Linked DNA regions of Homo sapiens. The protein of the gene in region 2 interacts with the protein of the main gene of each other region in a biochemical or structural test. Each region holds a gene or a part of one and is shown on either strand. Other genes may lie near its edges.

Evidence for each region.
Region 1: the proteins of PRKCI (region 2) and FRS2 form a complex in vitro, tested with the Homo sapiens proteins (one study listed by BioGRID).
Region 3: of the proteins of PRKCI (region 2) and GLI1, one has a biochemical effect on the other in vitro, tested with the Homo sapiens proteins (one study listed by IntAct).

Annotation. Positions count from the first base shown.
Region 1 is NC_000012.12:69,564,364-69,568,117, reverse strand, and holds part of FRS2 (fibroblast growth factor receptor substrate 2), read right to left. Parts: exon of another isoform or gene 1,478-3,754; intron 1-1,477. UniProt on the Homo sapiens protein: Adapter protein that links activated FGR and NGF receptors to downstream signaling pathways.
Region 2 is NC_000003.12:170,220,775-170,224,528, forward strand, and holds the start of PRKCI (protein kinase C iota type), read left to right. Parts: upstream 1-1,649; 5' UTR 1,650-1,895; coding exon 1,896-1,996; intron 1,997-3,754.
Region 3 is NC_000012.12:57,469,672-57,472,809, forward strand, and holds the end of GLI1 (zinc finger protein GLI1), read left to right. Parts: coding exon 1-27; intron 28-645; coding exon 646-2,390; 3' UTR 2,391-2,597; downstream 2,598-3,138. Other genes in the region: ARHGAP9 (rho GTPase-activating protein 9), read right to left, coding at 2,846-3,017. UniProt on the Homo sapiens protein: Acts as a transcriptional activator. Binds to the DNA consensus sequence 5'-GACCACCCA-3'. Regulates the transcription of specific genes during normal development.

The DNA.
Region 1 (3,754 bases), on a different chromosome or scaffold from region 2:
AAGAACACTCCAACTGAGCAGACAAAGAAAACTCCAAAGCATCACTTACAAACAAGGGAAATAATCAGATAGAATATGACAATATATGAAAAAGGAGGAGGGAAGGAAGCACAGAAGCTACAAAACATTACAAACATAAATTTGATTGAAGCTTGTTGAAAATTATTCAGTGGCTCTCCACTATCTTCAGTTTAACAGTATAAACTCTTCAGTATGATAGATCCGATCAGATACAATGTAATCCCTGTCTAACAGATCCAGTCTAGACTCTCCCTGCTTTCTGTTTCAAGCCCTATTCTTAGTCCTGTCAGAATAAACAAGCTGCAGTTTCCCCAGAGCATCCTGGTCTCTCACATCCTTCCAAGCTGCTCCCTTTCTGCTTCTTTCCTTTCTCAAGATTCAACTCAAAGTGCAGTTCCTCTAGGATGCTTTCCCTGACTCCAAGCAACTAGGCAAGTTATACTATTATGTATGACCGTCATGCATATGCTAACCCAAAGCACCCTGGGCTTCCTAGTATCATAGCATCTATCACACTTTGTACTGAGTAGAAATTGTGGCAGGTATCTGTTTATCTGTCTTTTCTCCTCCATTGTGAGCCCCTTGTCAGCAAGGATGAACCTTACTCATTTTTACATTCCTAGTACCTAACACGATACCTAGCATACAGAAGGTGCTATAGGACCTGTGATTTAAATGGACTGTATTAAACAAATGTGAAGGATCCCTAGCAGGTATAAGTATTAAGAAAATGAAAAAGTGTACTAGCGTATAAACCAAGAGTGTATATGATAACATATAATAGTAAAGTTAATTAAGACTCATGATATTTGGTATTTTTGCTTTAACTAATATGCCAGCTAAGTATCATAGTACAAGGACACATAAGTCACCATCTTTGTCTTTGAAGAGCTGTGAGTATCAAGGGGGAGAGAGAGAAAGAGAGAGAGAGAGATGTAAATAGATAATGCACTGCGATAAACCTTATATTAGGATATGAGCAGAGTACTGTGGGCACATGAAAGGGAACAACTAACTTTCTGGGTTAGGCAGGACAGGAAGCACTAATTGAGCTGGGATTTAAAAGAAGAGCAGAAACAACATGCTAAGCAAAATAAAGAGAAATAAGCACCTGAGACAGACAAAAGTCATGAAGTGTCACACCACATTCAGGAGAAAGTGAGGCGTTCAGTATGACTGGACTACAGGGTAGACTGGAAGACAAATGGGGCCCAACCATAAAGCAGCCTGAACAAGCTAGGGACATGTTCCCTAGATTTGAGACTTGATCTTCCAGTTAACTCGAAGATAGCCTGCCTCTAGTGTTCCCACAATAGAATGGCATAACTCTATTGTGGCCTTTATCGTACTCTACTGCAATGTTTATCTTTCTGCACCATCCACTTTGCTGTGATCTCTTTAAAGACAGGAAATCTTGTCTTGTTCATTTTCCAGGGCACTAAGCATACCAACTTACATGGCACATATTCTTTTTTTTTTTAAATCCCCCAAGACGGAATTTCGCTCTTGTTGCTCAGGCTGGAGTGCTATGGCGTGATCTCGGCTCACTGCAATATCCGCCCCCCAGGTTCAAGAGATTCTCCTGCCTCAGACATGGCACATATTCTATAAACATTTAATTTTTTAAAAAATAGTAAATGTTTAATATTAATAAATTATAGGATGAGTAATATAAGAAATTTTAAGTAAAGGGATAATTGATAGAGACATTTTTTAAAAGTCTTCTTGAAAGTACATATTTGTTCTCCCCGACCTCCTTGTGAAATATGAAGAGCTAAAAGATTACTACAGTATGGCTTTTGCTTCAAAAGATGATGCTCCAAAGGAATGTTTTTAAACTTTTTTTTTTCTCAAAAGGAGCAGGAAAATCATCCTTCCACTTGGCATCTTCATAAGCTACCTGTTAAGGTAGAACCTCTCGTGCTGGCAGGGATATACAGTCATGAGCCACATAACAAATGTTTGGTTGGCAACAGACTACATATATGACAGTGGTTCCCTGAGATTACAAGGGAGCTGAAAAATTCCTGTCAGCTACTGACACTATAGCTATCACAGCATCACAGTGCAACACATTATTCATGTGTTTGAGATAATGCTGGTATAAAAAAAAACCTACTGCACTGCCAGTGTATAAAACTATAGCACATTCAATTATGTATAGTACGTAATACTTGATAATGATAAATGACTATGTAATTGGTTTATGTATTTACTATACTATGTATCTTACTATTATATCAGAGTATACTCCTTCTACTTATTAAAAAAAAAATTAACTGTAAAACAGCCTCAGGCAAGTCCTTCAGGAGGTATTCCAGAAGAAGGTGCAGTTTTCCTAGATGACAGCTCCATGTTATTGCCCCTGAAGACTTTCCAGTGGGACAACATGTAGGAGGAGAAGACCGTGATATGGATGATTTTCACCCTGTATAGGCCCATGCTAATGTGTGTGTTTGTGTCTTTGTCTTAGTTTTTAACAGAAGTTTTAAAGGTTAAAAAAAAATTAAAAATTTTAAAAACAGAAAAAAATCTTAAAGGATATAAAAAAATACTTCTGTACTGCTGTAGAATGTGTGTGTTTTAAGCTAAATATTATAAGAGAGTCAAAAAGTTTCAAAAAATTAAAAGGTTATAAAGTAAAAAAGTTATAGTAAGCTAATTTATTACTGAAGAAAAAATTATTTAAACAAACAGCGTAGCCTAAGAGTACAGTTTTATAAAGCCTACAGTAGTGTACGATAACATTCTAGGCCTTCACATTCACTCACCACCCACTAACCAACTCACCCAAGAGCAACTTCCAGTTCTGTAACCTCCATCCACGGCAAGTGCCTTATACAAGTGTACCATTTTTTCTCTTTTATAGTTTTCTTACTGTACCTTTTCTATGTTTAGAAATGCAGATACTTACCATTGTGTTACAACTGCCTATAGTATTCAGTACAGTGATGTTGCTCAGATTTGTTGAGTAGGAGCTATAGGCTATACCATATATCCTAGGTGTATAGTAGGCTATACCATTTAGGTTTGTGTAAGTACACTCTATGACGTTTGCGCAGTGACGAAACTGTCTAATGACACATTTCTCAGAAGGAATCTCCACCATTAAGTGATATATGAGTGGCAGTGCAACCTACTTGGGGACTCTATCCACACTGAATGTTTGAGTTCAATACAACAATAATTAATGAAATGCCTAATATGTGATATGAAAGCCTTGTATGCCATGCCAAAGAGAAAGGAATTTATCCTACACATGATGGAAAACCACTGATGTATTTTAAGTAGAAAAGTGAGACGGTCAGAAGTGCATTTTAAATAAACATATGTATGATAAATTTAAGTAGGAGTTTAGCTCAGAGGAAAGAAAATCAGTTTGAGATTATTAAAAAATGAAATATGATAAAAACCTAAAACAAGAGCAGCAATGGTAGGAATGAAGAAGAAAAGAATAAATTTAAGGAACATTTAAGAGGAAAAGTCAGTGGCACCAAAGAACTGACTTGACATAATGGAAAACAGAGGCAGTTTCCAGCATGGCAGACAAAGGGTGCCAGGGGTCTATTACCTGAGATACAAAAAACTGTAGTCTTCAAGAGGAAGTGATAATGATTTGTTCAGATATGTTAAACTGAGAGCCCAGGGAAATGTCCAAGTGCAATAGTTAAGTACATAAGTATGTGTTTGAGGGAGAAGGTAAAACATTAGAACACATGTCACATTTTAAGCT
Region 2 (3,754 bases):
TCGCTCCGTATTAAACTTGCTGATGCAGGTCTCCAATTACTGAAAAACCTGATACCAAGTTTTTCAATGGGATTTTTTTGTTTGTTTAAGAGATGGGGTCTCACCATGTTGCTCAGGCTGGCCTTGAACTCCTGGGCTCAAGTGATCCTCCAGCCTCAGCCTCTCAAAGGCTGGGACTACAGGCATGTAGCACTTTGCCTGACTCAAGGGGAATTTTTAGTAAGAGTATATAATCCAAGTCTGTAGCAGTTGGAGGATGTCGTACCACGCTGAAGTGTCACACATAACTGATGACTCAGTCCCCCAAGCCTATTTTATCATCGTAAAGAAAGCTATTTCTTTGATTATTCCAACTCTTTCAGCACCAGGACTGCTGCAGGGGCTGGATTCATGCTACCTGTAGTTGCAGTGTAAATTATGTGTCAGAGCCAAGATCCTAGGAAAGTCAAAGACTAGGTTACAAGAGCGATTCTTTTTTTTTTTTTTTTTTTTTTTTTTTGAGACAGAGTCTTGCTCTGTCGCCCAGGCTGGAGTGCAGTGGCACAGTCTTGGCTCACTGCAACCTCCGCCTCCCTGGTTCACGCCATTCTCCTGCCTTAGCCTCCCGAGTAGCTGGGACTACAGGCGCCCGCCACCACGCCCGGCTAATTTTTTGTGTTTTTAGTAGAGACGGGGTTTCACCGTGTTAGCCAGGATGGTCTCGATCTCCTGACCTTGTGATCCGCCCGCCTCGGCCTCCCAAAGTGCTGGGATTACAGGCTTGAGCCACCGCGCCCGGCCAAGGACGATTCTTTCTAATCTTTGGTAAGCCAGTTTTTACAGAATGAAATGCTCTTGGATTGACTGACTTGATTGGGTAAGTATTCATTGGGCTCTTGTTCCATGCAAGGGCAGTCTACAAGGGCCTAGATATGGGGGCCCCCAAAGAAGAAAAATCGGTTTTTCATCATATTTTCTGGTTGAGTTTCTTCCTTTATTATATTTGTTACATATGTTATTAAATTATTTCCATAAAAGAGGTTATGCTGAGCAGGTAACCAAATTCTTGTTCCCCCAAAAGACATGTATAATTCAGACGATTTATGCAATTAGAAGAAGGGAGACTTCATCAGTTAATAAAGTCTAGAACGTGAGGAAGCCCAGTCATTTCCAGGACCTTCAGATGCCCAAGCTGGATCCAGGTTTTCCACCCCGACAGCTCCAGGGAGCACGCTGGAGAGACAGACTTCACCAGCGGGAAGGCGCGGCACCCTACGCGCAAGGAACCTCAAGTCCCAGAATCCTATGAGGACTCCAAATCCCAGAAACCTGCACGCAAATCTATCCCGGGTGCCAAGTCGGCCGACCGCAGACGTGACCAAGTTGCGAGGCTAGGGTGAGGTGTCGTAGAATTTGTCCCTACCATTGTCCCTGCAGGGAAGAGACTTTAGTGATCTAGAGCTGGTCATTGTCTCTTTCACAGCTCGCGTGAAAGCACCCCTCTCGGCGTGTTTGATGCCATGATCAGCGTCTCCCATTCCCTCTGTCCCCTTTCTCTGCCCCCGTAAGGATGGTTCAGCCCGGTATTGAGGCTCCTTGAGCTGGCTGGATGGTTGCGCCCGCCCTACCCCGGAATGTGGGCCTTTGGAGCGAGCGAAGTGGGAGGGACCGACGCAGGAGGTGTCTTGGGCCCGGGCGGCTGTAGAGGCGGCGGCGCCTACGGGCAGTGGGAGGAGCCGCGCGGTTCCGGCTGCTCCGGCGAGGCGACCCTTGGGTCGGCGCTGCGGGCGAGGTGGGCAGGTAGGTGGGCGGACGGCCGCGGTTCTCCGGCAAGCGCAGGCGGCGGAGTCCCCCACGGCGCCCGAAGCGCCCCCCCGCACCCCCGGCCTCCAGCGTTGAGGCGGGGGAGTGAGGAGATGCCGACCCAGAGGGACAGCAGCACCATGTCCCACACGGTCGCAGGCGGCGGCAGCGGGGACCATTCCCACCAGGTCCGGGTGAAAGCCTACTACCGCGGGTGAGTGTCCTGGGACAGGGCGGTGGGCGGGAGGGGACAGGCCGGCTCCACTCGGCCTGGAGGAGGGGAGGGTGAGGGGCTGGAGGTGTTGTGGGCGGATTGGGCTGGGCGGGCGGGCGGCTCCGGTGACTCAGGGTGAGTGACGAAGTGATAGGGGTGGGGGCGAAGCAAGGGGATGCAGTACTGGGGGCGCCCCCAGGTATGGCGGTGCGGGGAGCCGAGGGGCCAGAGTAGGGTCCGAGAAGGAAGCTAGGGTTAGAGTAGGTGCACCTGGTGTGGACGAGAGACTCGCCTCCTGAGAGCTTTGTAGGGGCCTTGCATCCTTAAGTCTGGGTGTATTTGGGGTTGCGAGTTGAGGATTCCAAGTGATGCCTTAGTTAACTCAGTTTGCTGTGGGGATAGAAAACGGGACTTCTTCAGTTAGCTGTCCGTTTTGATTACCAGCAGGCCTAACGCCTCTGGTTCTCTGAGATATACCTCCATCCCCGTTGTGTTCACGTAGTGTATCTGCACTGCCAGTATATTAGACATAGGGGTTGTATTTAAGAATCAAGTCGATGCGTTTTCAGGGACGTGCAGTGGGTACTTACGTGTCGTCAAGATTAAGTTGCATGTGTGTAAATCAAAATTTTGTGAGCCTTTCTTTCTCAGTGTTGTTTCAACGACTACCCGATAGGGTGAGATACTGCAAGGTGAGGAGACTAGCCTAGTTACAGTTTTAAATTCTCTGATCTTCACTCCCTTACTATGGTTACAAGAAAAAACCCAGTTCTAAGTTCATTGTGTTAAATCATTTTCTATCAGTGACGCAAAGTGCCCCCCTTCCTTTAAATTCAGTTGTGGTTTGAATTTTTTTTTGAGATAATTATGTTTAGGAGCATTAGAAACGTGAAATGTTAGTGTGACCATAAAGGTTGGAGACTGAGAAGTCACAGAAAACCCAGCTACTTTGGCTTGCCTTACTGCTTGTCCAGGTAGAAGTAAATTGCTTTAAAAAACTCAAGCAGTGCTAGGTTGAAATTTTAATGCATACTTTTACATTCCTGAGAGGATCAGTGAAGATAGCAAACTCTCAAACTACCTCTCTTGTTTTGATTTCAAAGAAAATCTGAGCCCCTAAATGTTGTATTGATTTGATGTAAGGACTTTTTTTTTTATTATTATACTTTAAGTTTTAGGGTACATGTGCACAATGTGCAGGTTAGTTACATGTGTATACATGTGCCATACTGGTGTGCTGCACCCATTAACTCGTCATTTACATTAGGTATATCTCCTAATGGTATCCCTCCCCCCTCCCCCCACCCCACAACAGTCCCCAGGGTGTGATGTTCCCCTTCCTGTGTCCATGTGTTCTCATTGTTCAATTCCCATCTGTGAGTGAGAACATGCGGTGTTTGGTTTTTTGTCCTTGATGTAAGGACTTTTAAATTTGCTGCCATGAAGCCTCTGGCCTCTGTTTATTATTAGCTTGACTGTATGCAGGAGTAGTTTATTGGAGTTATATTGGACAGTATGATAACTTTGTGTTTAAGCAGGTAAAACTGATTAAGGAGGTTTTTATTTTAAATCAGTACCAAGAAACGTGTGGATATTTTTTAAAGTTTGTAGTTGTCACAAGAGCTGTTTTGACTTGAGGATGGTCAGCCATGAACTTTGCAAGGTGAGAAAAAAGCTTCCTTTGCTTTTTTTTTTTTAAACCCTTACCTGTAATTTGATGAATGAGATGTTTCACTTTATTCTTTTATTTTATTTTTG
Region 3 (3,138 bases), on a different chromosome or scaffold from region 2:
TCAAACTGCCCAGCTTGTCCCACACCGGTGAGACCTGGGTGTGGGAGGTGTGGCTGGGGTGAGATCTGGACCTGCCCTGAGGTTGAGAGGAGGAAGTCACCCTTGAGGGCTGTCACACAGCACTTTTGTATAATTAGAAAATGGTGTCCTTCCTCAAGACACTTTCCATTTATCAGAAAATAGTTGTGATGTACAAACATGCAAAGGCTAGCCAGGCATGGTGGTGGGCACCTGTAATCCCAGCTACTCAGGAAGCTGAAGCAGGAGAATTGCTTGAACCTGGGAGGCAGAGGTTGCAGTGAGCTGAGATTGCGCCATTGCACTCCAACTTGAGCAACAAGAGCGAAACTCTGTTTCAAACAAAACAAAACAAAACAAACAAACAAACAAGTATGCAAAGGCTATGATGCGAATGCTGTTCCCTAGGATTGTGCAGCACACAACCTGCACAACTGTTCATAGCAACCCTGAATCCTTGGTAACCCAGAAACAGAATAGGCATGGGAGAAGTAGGAGACAGAACAGACTGGTTAGGGATAACGAGCTTACCCCTGAGAATCCAGGGCAAGGCTGTTGCATGGAGGAGGCAGGGTGAAATTTAGGAAGCTCCTTGACCATCCTACCTTTTCTCCCCATCACTTGCAGGTACCACTGTGTCCCGCCGCGTGGGCCCCCCAGTCTCTCTTGAACGCCGCAGCAGCAGCTCCAGCAGCATCAGCTCTGCCTATACTGTCAGCCGCCGCTCCTCCCTGGCCTCTCCTTTCCCCCCTGGCTCCCCACCAGAGAATGGAGCATCCTCCCTGCCTGGCCTTATGCCTGCCCAGCACTACCTGCTTCGGGCAAGATATGCTTCAGCCAGAGGGGGTGGTACTTCGCCCACTGCAGCATCCAGCCTGGATCGGATAGGTGGTCTTCCCATGCCTCCTTGGAGAAGCCGAGCCGAGTATCCAGGATACAACCCCAATGCAGGGGTCACCCGGAGGGCCAGTGACCCAGCCCAGGCTGCTGACCGTCCTGCTCCAGCTAGAGTCCAGAGGTTCAAGAGCCTGGGCTGTGTCCATACCCCACCCACTGTGGCAGGGGGAGGACAGAACTTTGATCCTTACCTCCCAACCTCTGTCTACTCACCACAGCCCCCCAGCATCACTGAGAATGCTGCCATGGATGCTAGAGGGCTACAGGAAGAGCCAGAAGTTGGGACCTCCATGGTGGGCAGTGGTCTGAACCCCTATATGGACTTCCCACCTACTGATACTCTGGGATATGGGGGACCTGAAGGGGCAGCAGCTGAGCCTTATGGAGCGAGGGGTCCAGGCTCTCTGCCTCTTGGGCCTGGTCCACCCACCAACTATGGCCCCAACCCCTGTCCCCAGCAGGCCTCATATCCTGACCCCACCCAAGAAACATGGGGTGAGTTCCCTTCCCACTCTGGGCTGTACCCAGGCCCCAAGGCTCTAGGTGGAACCTACAGCCAGTGTCCTCGACTTGAACATTATGGACAAGTGCAAGTCAAGCCAGAACAGGGGTGCCCAGTGGGGTCTGACTCCACAGGACTGGCACCCTGCCTCAATGCCCACCCCAGTGAGGGGCCCCCACATCCACAGCCTCTCTTTTCCCATTACCCCCAGCCCTCTCCTCCCCAATATCTCCAGTCAGGCCCCTATACCCAGCCACCCCCTGATTATCTTCCTTCAGAACCCAGGCCTTGCCTGGACTTTGATTCCCCCACCCATTCCACAGGGCAGCTCAAGGCTCAGCTTGTGTGTAATTATGTTCAATCTCAACAGGAGCTACTGTGGGAGGGTGGGGGCAGGGAAGATGCCCCCGCCCAGGAACCTTCCTACCAGAGTCCCAAGTTTCTGGGGGGTTCCCAGGTTAGCCCAAGCCGTGCTAAAGCTCCAGTGAACACATATGGACCTGGCTTTGGACCCAACTTGCCCAATCACAAGTCAGGTTCCTATCCCACCCCTTCACCATGCCATGAAAATTTTGTAGTGGGGGCAAATAGGGCTTCACATAGGGCAGCAGCACCACCTCGACTTCTGCCCCCATTGCCCACTTGCTATGGGCCTCTCAAAGTGGGAGGCACAAACCCCAGCTGTGGTCATCCTGAGGTGGGCAGGCTAGGAGGGGGTCCTGCCTTGTACCCTCCTCCCGAAGGACAGGTATGTAACCCCCTGGACTCTCTTGATCTTGACAACACTCAGCTGGACTTTGTGGCTATTCTGGATGAGCCCCAGGGGCTGAGTCCTCCTCCTTCCCATGATCAGCGGGGCAGCTCTGGACATACCCCACCTCCCTCTGGGCCCCCCAACATGGCTGTGGGCAACATGAGTGTCTTACTGAGATCCCTACCTGGGGAAACAGAATTCCTCAACTCTAGTGCCTAAAGAGTAGGGAATCTCATCCATCACAGATCGCATTTCCTAAGGGGTTTCTATCCTTCCAGAAAAATTGGGGGAGCTGCAGTCCCATGCACAAGATGCCCCAGGGATGGGAGGTATGGGCTGGGGGCTATGTATAGTCTGTATACGTTTTGAGGAGAAATTTGATAATGACACTGTTTCCTGATAATAAAGGAACTGCATCAGAAAAAATACCATGCCACTTTATGTATTATTATGTTGGGGAGGAATGATAACAGGGAACAAGAAGAGAAGCAGGGGTTAATCCACTCACTTTCCTCTTTAGAGAAGCTCCCTCACCCATCCCAACACCTCAAGTCACACTCATGAAGATAGAGACAGTCATTTGGGAGATTTAAAGGGATATCCTCAAAACAGAACACCAGCCTCTCACCACCAGAGATGACCGGAAATATGTTTTCTCTTCTTCCTTCCCTGCATCAGGGGAAGAGGCTGGTGAAGTTGGTGAGCATCAGCTGGACCAGCTGCCCTGGGTAGAGAGCATGGGCTGCTGGGTCAGATGTCTCCTGCTCTGGCCGAAACAGGGTTGGTCCAAACACAATTCCCAGGTTGTGGGGTGTCATGCGATTCTTATCTGAGTGTGCTATCACCCTGTAAGCAAAGGCCAAGGAAGGGGATATATGGCAGCAGCTTGCCACTTCATAGCAATCTAACTAACCCTTCAAAGTTCTGAGCAGGGAAGAGTTCACTCTGGGATTCCTCCACATGGTAA